Linked DNA regions of Homo sapiens: all the other regions are linked to region 3. Evidence: fine-mapped expression QTL. A gene starts in region 3. Each other region holds a variant in brackets. All regions are shown on one strand. Distances are between the middles of the regions.

Region 1 (2,691 bases), 380 kb before region 3:
GTGGTTCTGTGGAGTTTCAAGATGCGATGCTTTAGCAGACATGGAATCTGGAGGGGGTGTGCAAACATTGCCTGAGTTAGGGTCGTTTGTGTGAGGTCCAGGAGGTAGAAGCAAGGTAAGGCGGTGCAGTTGAAGCATGAATTCCTAGGGACAGCCGAAGTGCTATGTCCTAGAGCACAGCAAAATCAGAAATCCATAGGAATAGCCAGACATTGAAGATAGTAGCTAGGAATCAGATATAAAACAAATTAGAAAAATTGTGATGAGATTTGCTTGCCAGCAATCAGAGCTCATGGCATGTGTTTAGCCTAGGGCCCTCTCAAGGTACCAAGCATGGATGAAGGGCCAGCAATCTCCTTGGGGACATTACCAGCATCTGGAATCCTTTGGCTACCCAGGTTTACTGAATTTCCTCCCTGGTCATTCATCCCGTGAGCTTCTATGCTTGGCCTGCTGCGTTTCACTGTCTCTGTCAACCTCAGGCAGCTGCTTTTCTTTCCTTTCCAGTTGTCCCTTTACTGAATATTTTCCAAATCTACGTTTCAGTTCTTGGTCTCGAGTGCATAGTAGTGCAATTCTTCAATTTTTTGATGTCCCGAACCTTGGAAAACAGATTTAGGTCAGCCACAAAATACAATAAAATGATGTTTACATTGGTTTCTCACATTTTTTAATCAACATTGCCACCTAGTGGTAAAATAATCCTTAAAACTGTGCACAATTATTTTCATTTGGGTTTGGATATTTGATTCAATGTCAAGGATCTTCAAATGGTAAAATTTTGAGCAAGAAGAGACCACAATGATTATTCATTTAAATGTATTGTTTTACACCTAAAGAAATTGAGGCTTAGGGAAAGTCATATGGTAACCAGTGTCTTTTAGGCTCATTAATTATTGCGCTAATACGGTAGGGTCCTCATTCACAGACTATCACTATTTTCCCCCCAGAAATTCTTAATTATTTCCTCTTGAGGTTTTGGTTGATCACTCAGTTTTTCTCCCTTAAGTTTTAAGATGTTCTTACTCAATTTAGCTATTTCCTGGTGGTAAGTAAAAAACAAAACGAAACAAAAACAAACAACAAAAATCAGTTTCAAATGAAGCAAGGTTGTGTATTACATTCTCTCTTTTTGACACATTTGTTTTGTCTTTTTCTCCCAAGTCTTTCTCAAGATGTGTCAATCCATGAGCATGTCTTCCTTTCTTGTGTACATTTAAATACAGGAAAAATATTCTAATACATCCTGTGTTCCATCCAGTCCAGCAGTATTTACACAGTTTTGGGCAGGTCTAGGGTAGAACCAGAGATTCTGAATTCACACCAAGCTTCCCAAAGATGACAAAACTCCTGTTTTGGGCTCACACTTTAAATTGTAAGGCTTTATAGAACAATGACTACATCCTTGAGAACTCAAAAT[C/A]TTTCTTCAGAATGGATGAGTAAACCGTGTGTTCTGTTTGGGCAAATGAGGAGCACAAGGGGAAATTCCTTTGCCTTAAGCAACGTCTCCGCTGAAGTGGCTAATTCCCTTTTTGGCTGCCATGGGGGTCATGTGCCCTGTGAAACTGCTGCTGCTTGCACTGCTTAACGAGACAAGGTCAGGGAATTTCCCTGCACTCTGTGATGACCATTGACCCTCTCCAGGGGTCCGTGATAACCGGGTCTGGAGAATGCCCTCCCAGGACATTCCAGGAGTGATCCTAGGCTAGGCAGTTGTATTAAAGTTCTAAATTTGGTTGCACATTGGGATCACCTGGAAAGCTTAAAAACATACTAATGTCTGGGTCCTGTCCCTGGATACCAGGGTTTTCAAAGCTCCCCAGGTAATTCCAATGAGTAGCAAGCCTGAGAACCACTGGAAACCTAAAGGCACGTAATGGGCCAAAGGACACCAGCTTGTCCCTCCCCTCCTCTCCTTTCTCCTTGTCACCAGTTTATTCTGAAACAAAGACTTCAGGATGCTGCTGGAAAGGGAATTCAGCTCCTAGCAGCTCTGGCTTTATTTACCCTCTCAGGCCCCTCCTCCCTCCTGCGCCCCAACTGGATGTGCATACTTTTTGAGGCAAGTCCAGTCCCTTCCCAAAGTTCCTAGGGTGGCCTTCATAATGCATTTTATTATGTCACACCCACCTGCTCTGCTAGGCCAGCCGAGGTCATGTGATAAGGCTGCTGCATCCCAAGGAAAGGGTTTCGGCTTTTACAAGGACAAGTGCTGGATCAGCCTGATCTCCTGGGAGTTATGAATCAGATGGTCTGAATGTCCTTGCGAGACTTGTGGAAAGAGAAATGTTATCCAGGTTTTTCCTTCAGAACTTTTCATAGGCGATCCTGGGAGCTCTGACCTAGAACTGAAATGACTTTTGATTTTGAAAATAATTAGAATTAATTTTGTAAGGCTGCTTCTCTCTCTCTCTCTACATATATATATGCTTCTAAATATATATATTTGTAAAATACAGTAATCTATGGGCTAGAAACTGTGATAAGAAGCTATAATAGAAATTTACAGTTAAAGAAATGATGGATAATGTGGGATTGTGGTTAAAGATCAGAAGAAAAATGCTTTGGTTCTCCAATCTTGACTTCTTGCATTAGGTATTTTGCTGGGGGAAGAGAGGGAGGGAGACAGAGAGAGAGAGAAAACTATATATATATATATGTGTTTAACAGGACATCTTTCTCTTGACTCTT
Region 2 (2,691 bases), 150 kb after region 3:
AGGATATTTTGTTTGTCAAATGCTTCTTATTGATCAATTGACATGTGATTTTTGTAATATATTCTATTACATTGATTTATTTTGGGGTGTTAAACGAACCATGGACTCCTGAATAAATCTCACTTGGTCTTGATGTGTAATCCTTTTGTGTATGTGTTGCTACATTCATTTTGATAGTGTTTTGTTAATGATTTTGCACCTATATTTTAGGAGATATTGATTTGTCACTTTCACTTTCTTTTCTCATGATGCCTTTTCAGGTTTTGTATTAGGGTAATATTGGCCTCATAGACAAAATTGGAAAACATCTTCTGTTTCTTGGAGAGTTTGTTGGGGATTGGCATTAATTCACTTTTAAACGTTTGGTAAAATTCACCAGTGAAGTCATTTTTGCCTGTACTTTTCTTTGTGGACAGGTTTTCAATTACTAATTCAATCTATTTCTTATTATAGGTAGATTCAGATTTTCAGTTTCTTGAGTTAGATTCAGTAGTTTGTGTCCTTCTAGGAACTTGTCCATTTCATCTATGTTAACTCATTTGTTAGCATTCAATTGCTCAGAGTATTCCCTTATAATTATTTTTAAAAATTGCTTTAAGGTGGTAGTGACATCCTATCTTTTCTTCTTGATTTTGGTAATTTGGTTTCTAGAGCTAAGTTAGCTCTTATAAGAAATGGGAAACACTGTAGTTGATTCATCATTGAGGAGTCTGACATCAGGTCAAAATCTTATGTGTCATCTCTCAGAGCTGACTATAGACAATTACAAAGATGTTGAAAGTAAACGTGGTAAAATTACAAAGATGTTGAAAGTAATCATGCCAAAACATGGCATGGTCCACATGGCAAAAAATGGCGGGGGTGGGGGGCGCCTTTTGAGAAACCTTTCTTATTACATTCCATCAGCTGTTTTTCATTTATTAAGATTTTGTTGAACAGATAGTACAGAGAGCTCCTATATATTCCATCACTTCTTACCTCCCCAGTTTCTCCTATTATTAACATCTTGCATTAGTGTAGCACATTTGTTACAACTGATGTTACAATCAGTGGAACAATATTGATACATTATTAACTATGGCTAAAATCCAAAGACTCAGTAATACCAATACTGGTGAGGATTTGAAGTCCATAGTTTGCTTTAGGGTTCATTCTTTGTGCTGTACAGTTGTATGTGTTTTGACTAATGTGAAATGCCACGTATCTACCATTATAATATCACATAGAATAGTTCCAATGCCCTAAGAAATCTCCTGTGCTATAACTGTCATCCCTCCCCCTGAATTTCTGAAAAACACTAATCTTTTCTCTGTCTCTATATATAGTTTTGCATTTCTTACAATGTCATGTAGTTGGGAAGATACAGTATATAGCCTTTTTATACTGGCTTTTTTCACTTAACGATATGCATTTAAGTTTCCTTCATGTCTTTCATAGCTTAATAGCTCATTTCTTTTTATCTCTAGATAATACTTATCTTAGTTCATCTTGTGCTCTTGTAACAAAATACCACAGACTGGGTAATTTATAGAGAACTGAAACTTATTTCCTCACAATTTCAGAGACTGGAAA[G/C]TCCTAGATTAAGGGGCTGACATCTGGTGGCCTTGTTGCCAAGTCATCCCATGGCAGAAAGCAGAGGGCAGAGAGAGGGCAAGAGAGAGACGCAAGGGGGTTGAACTCATCCTTTTACAAGGAATCCATGCATGCCGGCAGAGCTCTCATGGCCGTATCACCTCTTACAAGTCCCATCTCTTAATATTGTTACAATGGCAATTAAATTTCAACATGAGTTTGGGAGGGGACAAACATTCAAGTTATAACAATATTTCGTTGTATAGATAGGCCACATTTATCTGCTCACCTATTGAATGACATGTTGGCTGCTTCCAGTTTTTGGCAATTGTAAATGAAGCTGCTATGAACATTCACATGCAGATTTTTGTGTAGACATAACTTCAACTCATTCATTGGTTTATTTATTTATTTTTTTGAGACAGGGTCTTGCTCTGTCACCCAGGCTGGAGTGCAGCAGCGTGATCACCGTTCACTGCAGCCTCGACCTCCCTGGCCTTAACAATCCTCCCACTTCAGCCTCCTGAGTAGCTAGGACTGCAGACACATGACAGCAAGCCTGTCTAACTTTTTTTATTTTTTTTGTAGAGACTGAATCTTGCCATATTGCCTATGCTGGGCTCAAACTCTTGGACTCCAGCAGTCCTCCTGCCTAGGCTTCCCAAAGTGCTGGGATTACAGGCATGAACCACTGTGCCCAGGCTTCAACTCATTTGAGTAGATACACAGGAGTGTGGTTGCTGGATCAAATGGTGGGACTGTTTACCTTGATTAAAAAAAACTGCCTGTCTATGCCATTTTGCATTCCTACCAGTAATAGGAATTACAGTCCCTGTTTACTATATATCCTCACCAGCATTACCTGGTGTTATCAGATTTTTGGATTTTAGCCATTCTAATACATATATAGCCATATCTTGTTTTTATTTGAAATTTCATGAAATAATTTTGAACAACTTTTCATATATTTATTTGAGATATACCTTTTTATCTTCTTTTGTGAGGTGGTTGTTTAGGTCTTTTCCCCATTTTTAAATTGAGTTGTTTATTTTCTTATTGAGTTTTAGGAGTTTATATATTTTTGTGTATCTTGCCTATAAGTTGATCTATAGTCTTCTC
Region 3 (2,691 bases):
AAATATTCCACCAAAATCAACCGACAACGACAAAAGCAAGTTTGTACTCACTCAACTAGAAGAAAACTTTGAAGGGGAAAAGAATTAGAGGTAGATGTTAAGAATGAAAACCTCTCTCAAATGCAGTTCTAAATCTTTTATTTTACAGACCCTAAAGCCACCCCAAAAGTGATAAGCAAGCTTCCGAAAAAGATGTCTGAAGAATACAAATCCTCCACCGTATCCTGTCCGTTGCATCCACTCCCACCTGCTACCACTTCTATCCACTTTACCGATATGGTCACGATGAGCGCTACAAAATTGCTGCCAAATAAGTAAATATGAGCGCAACACAAAGCCAGTTGGTGGGGACCAAAAAGTACCTTTAGAGGCACTCAGCCCCTTCGTAAAAGTCAGCATGTGTTTAGCTCTTTAAAACATCTCGCCTTACCAAACTCTACGAAGAATGAGAATTAAGACCGTCCTCTAACCTAACCCATGCGGATATGAAAAGTGGAAGGAGATTTCAAGACAGGTTTATACTAACTAATCCATTAGCCCAAGGCAGATCAGAGCTGTCAACAAATCAGGACCAAATCAGAAAGAACAAAGTTGCAAATGTGAGAGGGTGTGTATGCACTGGTGCGGGGGAAGAGGATGGGTGGGAGGACAATTTTTAAAATGCAATCATTGAAAACGGGAGAATCCAAGTCCTCTGTCTCCCAGCCGGCCTCCAAACCTCGATTCCACGGGCAGTGCCGGGAATGGACCTAATCCCAGGATCGCAGGGATTTGGGGGCGGGGTGGGGCTGCCTCCCGCACCCGCGTGCCTGAGCGCCCAGCCCCCGCGATGAGGACGCGCTCGGGACACTCACGTTTTCTGCACCGGCTTCCGCCGCTTGCGACTGGCGTAGGTGATGTTGGCGCTGCTGCTGTTCATGGTGCCCAGCCGACGGCGGCGGCTACTCCCCGGGCACTGGCGGCCGGGTCCCCGGAACCCGGTGTAGGCTGGGACCACTGCGGCGGCCGGCGCCGGGTTCCGCGAAGCCGCGCCCGCTCCACCTGCGTCCTCTCGGGACAGTGGCGTGGGCGCCGCGCCTCAACGCCTCGGCTCACGCAGGCTTCCGCAGCCCGCGCCAGTACAGGTGAGCTGCCTGGGCCTGGCGCAGTGAGGGTGGGCGAGGGGCGGAGACCCGCGAGCAAGGCGGCGCAGGTGCCGTCTACACCGGCGGAGGCGGCGCGGCAATGCCCGCAGGTGAGGCGGCCCGGGCGGAGGAGGAGCCTGGGCCGTCTATTTAGAATCCTGGCCTGGGTCGCTCACGGTGGCGCCGCGCCCCGTGACCGTCGCCGCGGCCCCTTGGGTGAGGGAGGTGCCGCCGCGCTGCTCCCGGGACTTCCTAAATCCAGGGTGCTTCCCGCCTGCGGAGCTCGGGCGCGGGCCACCAGTCCCGGCTGCTCCCAGCTTCCGTTCGGCTACACGGCTGCCCCTGTTCTGAGCTGGCGGTCCGGGGCACGCTCTCGGAACAGAGCGTCGACGGGACTCCCCAGCCACTGCCTCCCGCCGCCGCGCGCACCGGCTGAATAGCAGGAGCACCCCCGACCCCTCACCGGCCCCGCCCCGCCCAGATCCCGCGTAGCCCCGCCCCGTCCTGCTTGCCCCCGCCCATCTGGATTCCATTCCGTCTTCCTTGAGGGCCCCACCCTCATCCCGGCACGTGATGACGTAGGACGTAAGGACGCCCCCCCCCGCCGGTAGCCATCTTCGTGCATAGGCAAACTTATTGTAGCTAGACTGTACAAAGTATATCAAGATATGCCAAATATTGAGCTTAACTTCACCTGTTTGAGAGACGGTGGGTCAGCTAACTTGTGGCTAAGAATTACAATTAACTGGTAGACAACTGGTAGACAACCAATGGGACTGTATATTTTCCTAGTTGGGAAGGCTTCAGAAGGCCAGATTTGAGTTGAGACTTGAAGGCTAGGAGTTTCCTTGACCTTTTTTGGTGTGCGGGGGAAGTCTTTACAATAGACAGGAATATAGATAATAAGGGGACTATTATGTATTGTGTCATGGAGGACCATGTGGAAAAATATTGGGAGTAATTAACAATATTGAATACTGTTGAGAAATTCAAATTAGTTGAGAACTGAAAATGTCATTCTTGTTTTCTCAATGTGTAGTCACTGATGACTTTCGTGAATGCAGTGTTGGGGTAATGGGCCTGCAAATAACATTGAAGTGGGTACAGGATTGAGCTGAAGATAACAAAATGGCATCCTCAAGCAGGCAATTTTTCTTCCAAGTTTAGCTGTGGATGAGAGACACATCAGATTGTATGTAGGGGGAGTGAAGGGTTAAATGAGGGTTTTCTAGTTTTGGTTTAGTTCTTTAATGGGCGATACTGAGCGGCTTAGAGGGGGTAGAGATAAACTATGTAGGGAACCTGAGGGAAGAGTGAAGGAATGATAGATATTAAGATACCGAAAGCAGGAGGGAATGAGTGCCAAAGCATAAATGGGAGATTAGGACTAATAGATTAGATACTAACAGAAACAGCACTTACAGTGCTTTGCTATTCAGAGTACTCCACAGCTTCTTTTGAGAGTTACAGGAAATGCAGACTCTTTGGGTGTCCTTATTAAATCAGAACCCGAAGTTCACAGGAACTCCCAGGTGATTCAAATGTACATAAAGTTGGAGGAGCAGTT
Region 4 (2,691 bases), 180 kb after region 3:
TCTTTGCCACCACATACTATTATGTCAGACACGTTTCCCAAAATAGCTCTGTTCTTGAAGGGTAAAAAAGTAAAACAAGCATTTACTTTTAATATACCTGCAGGCCTTCACCTGTTGCACTATACATGGTTTCTTTCATGTTTGGCCTCCTTACTTCTATAGCAGGTTCTTGTCTTGCTAGAAAGGGCTAGAAATAATTAACGTTTGTTTTATCATTATTTTCCTAGAAATTATTATTTTGATAGATAATAATCATAATTTTGGTAGAAAACACCCTTCATGACTTACGCTTTATGCGTTTCTCATTTGTAGTAAACGCATGTATGTTTTCCTGAATTACTCTATATTGCTCTAGATAATCTTAGAATTTTCTTTTTTATTTTATTTTACTTAATTTTTTGGCACACTGTCTTCTGAAATGAATTACTTTAGCATATTTAAACATAAACTGAGAGAGTCCTGGTTGGTTTTTGTTTTTGTTTTCTAAAACAAATTTGCTTTTCTATAGGGGTTTCCCCAGGAGTTGTGGTATATTTCAAATGCCCTAGATAACCTTAGGGATTGTCCAACCTCACAAGTAGGCTTGATACTCAGAAATCAGAATTTTAAATTGTGTGTGCAATCTTTTTTCTTGCTTTCCTATATCATCCGGAATGTTCAGGGATTTTTTAGATATTTAATTTTAGAAACTACTTTTGGTCTAATTAAAGGAATATTATCTCTTTTCTCACTTCTTTACGTGCCTGAATCTATTATATAGTATTTCCTCATATATGTCATCTTGAGCATCCTATACTTTAAAAAATATTTACGTAAGCACTATTGTGGAAATAGTAAACACATAAAGAGGAGGAAAGAAAAGGAGGTAAGTAAATGGTAAAAGTGTTTGAAGCAAAGATTAACCGAATGATTTTGGCTCTGTGAATTGAGCCACAGAGTTTCTCTTATTTCTCCTCACACATTCCATTCCAGCCATACACACTCATCAGCATTTCCCAAACTCCGTGGCCCTTCATACCTCTCTATTGCTAAACATGCAGGATATGA[T/C]GTCGGGAATGACCTTCCCCTTTTTTCTGCTGAAATCTTACTTTCAGCTCAAATGTTATTTTCTATTTCTCAAATTACAGTTCCTGTTTCGAGTGTGTGGTTCTTTTCATGTCCTTTTAAATTGCCATTTACATGTCTATGTCTCCCACTAAGTTCCACAGGGACTGGGCTCATGTTTTACCCATTTCTGTAACCTTAGTGCCAGACAAATCTTTGTTCAATTCATGTATAATTAATGACTAAATTTATGCCTTTGAATAAGTTACTTAGTCTATCGGTGCTTTCTGCTTTGTAAAATGGAACTAATAATAGTACCTAACTTAAGGGAGGGTTTTGAGAATTACATAAAATAATTCATACAGAACATAATGCCTGACACATAATTCATGTTCAGTAAATATTTAGTTGTTGTTATGTACATATTTTTTAATACTGCATTTAAACACCAAAATTCTACAATTATTAATAGTGGTCATGAAAAAGGGTGTTTCATTGTCTTTGTTTTTGGATAAAAGGCCATTTGTCAGATGGCTGAAATACCAGTGTTAAATAAATAGATGAGTTTGCCACCACAGTGAAATTTCTCTCTATAGAAATGCCGCATGAAGGGTCTTCTCTGACTGTAATAGAAAAGCCAGTCTACAATTTGATGTCGTGAGGTGCTTACAGGGAAGAAATATTCCAAACAACTGCTAATTCCTGGCCAACAGTGTAAGCTCTATCTGATTTTGGGATATCATACATCTTTCTCTGAAGCTGTTTATCAATTCTCTTTCATCATATAAATTATCATATATATATTATGATTTAATTTTTTTCATATGAGAAAATTCGGAGTAGATTAATTCACCAACATAAGACAGATGCAAATTTTAGCCATTGGTTGAAAGCAGCAAATTTCACTGTCTATGGAGTTTTATGTATTTTCTAAAAAATAGATGTGTTTAGATAAATATTAAATGCCATATCACACATACCATACAGAGACTTTTTATATTGAAATATTCATTATCTTGACAGTAATAATATTCCATAAGTCTTATTTTGTTACATAAATATCTCATATTCCATCTTTCTTTTTATTTCAGTACAGCTCACCAAGAACAGTATAAACAAAGGTATTTCTTAGATTTATTTATTTTGGAAGATTCCAGTGAGGAAACATATTTTACTATATATTTATATAACTCTTAGCATTAGTTACCAGACTTTCCAAAATGAACACTTTTATTGAAAGCATACTTCTGACCAACTTCATTTAAAAAATAGAATTTGAAAGGTTTGGCTTTCTAGGGTCTTGCAACCTACATGATCACTCACTTCTTACATTATGCAGGCAAATTATTTTGTAACTCAGGTATTATTTTAACAACTGTAGCAAATTAACCAACTGCAATCTATTTATGTTCAGTAAATTTTTGCCAAACCATTCTATTTAAACATAGAGATTTCTTAATAACATGCCAGGAGATACAATGAGTCAAAAGAGGGCAGGGAAAGTGAGTACTCATTACTATAAAGTTTTCTAATTTGTAGCCTTCGCCAAAATTCTTCATTATGGAGACCATACTATTTAGTAGAATGGGTAACAGGAGGGAAAAGAACAGGGTTGTTTTCATTAGTGAAGATAGGTTAGTACAGCTT

Direction of the effects. Alleles are on the strand shown, and positions count from the first base shown. SD is a standard deviation of normalised expression in the study named. Not every link is listed here.
With allele A in place of C in region 1, the expression in fibroblasts of the gene that starts at base 1,532 in region 3 is higher (moderate effect, 0.43 SD a copy in GTEx).

The links.
Region 1: its variant is fine-mapped to the expression of AHR in fibroblasts (GTEx, PIP 0.93).
Region 2: its variant is fine-mapped to the expression of AHR in whole blood (TOPMed, PIP 0.99).
Region 4: its variant is fine-mapped to the expression of AHR in whole blood (TOPMed, PIP above 0.99). The same link has a PIP of 0.9 or more in blood mononuclear cells.

What each region holds. Positions count from the first base shown.
Region 1 is chr7:17,679,062-17,681,752 of GRCh38, reverse strand. No RefSeq gene overlaps it. Among named protein-coding and RNA genes, the nearest start is that of LINC02889, 120 kb to the right of the region's middle. The variant C/A (reference allele first, on the strand shown) is at 1,421.
Region 2 is chr7:17,151,813-17,154,503 of GRCh38, reverse strand. All of the region lies in intron 1 of LOC107986772 (a long non-coding RNA gene), which reads right to left. All of the region lies in intron 7 of LOC101927609 (a long non-coding RNA gene), which reads left to right. Among named protein-coding and RNA genes, the nearest start is that of AHR, 150 kb to the left of the region's middle. The variant G/C (reference allele first, on the strand shown) is at 1,573.
Region 3 is chr7:17,297,493-17,300,183 of GRCh38, reverse strand. AHR (aryl hydrocarbon receptor) reads right to left here and starts at 1,532. Exons shown (of 11, transcript NM_001621.5): 1 at 855-1,532. The coding sequence starts at 919. It overlaps LOC101927609 (a long non-coding RNA gene), which reads left to right and starts at 864. Exons shown (of 12, transcript XR_007060234.1): 1 at 864-1,124. RefSeq lists silencers at 858-907, 948-1,057, 1,108-1,257.
Region 4 is chr7:17,121,615-17,124,305 of GRCh38, reverse strand. The region is part of intron 1 of LOC107986772 (a long non-coding RNA gene); the gene reads right to left. Among named protein-coding and RNA genes, the nearest start is that of AHR, 180 kb to the left of the region's middle. The variant T/C (reference allele first, on the strand shown) is at 1,048.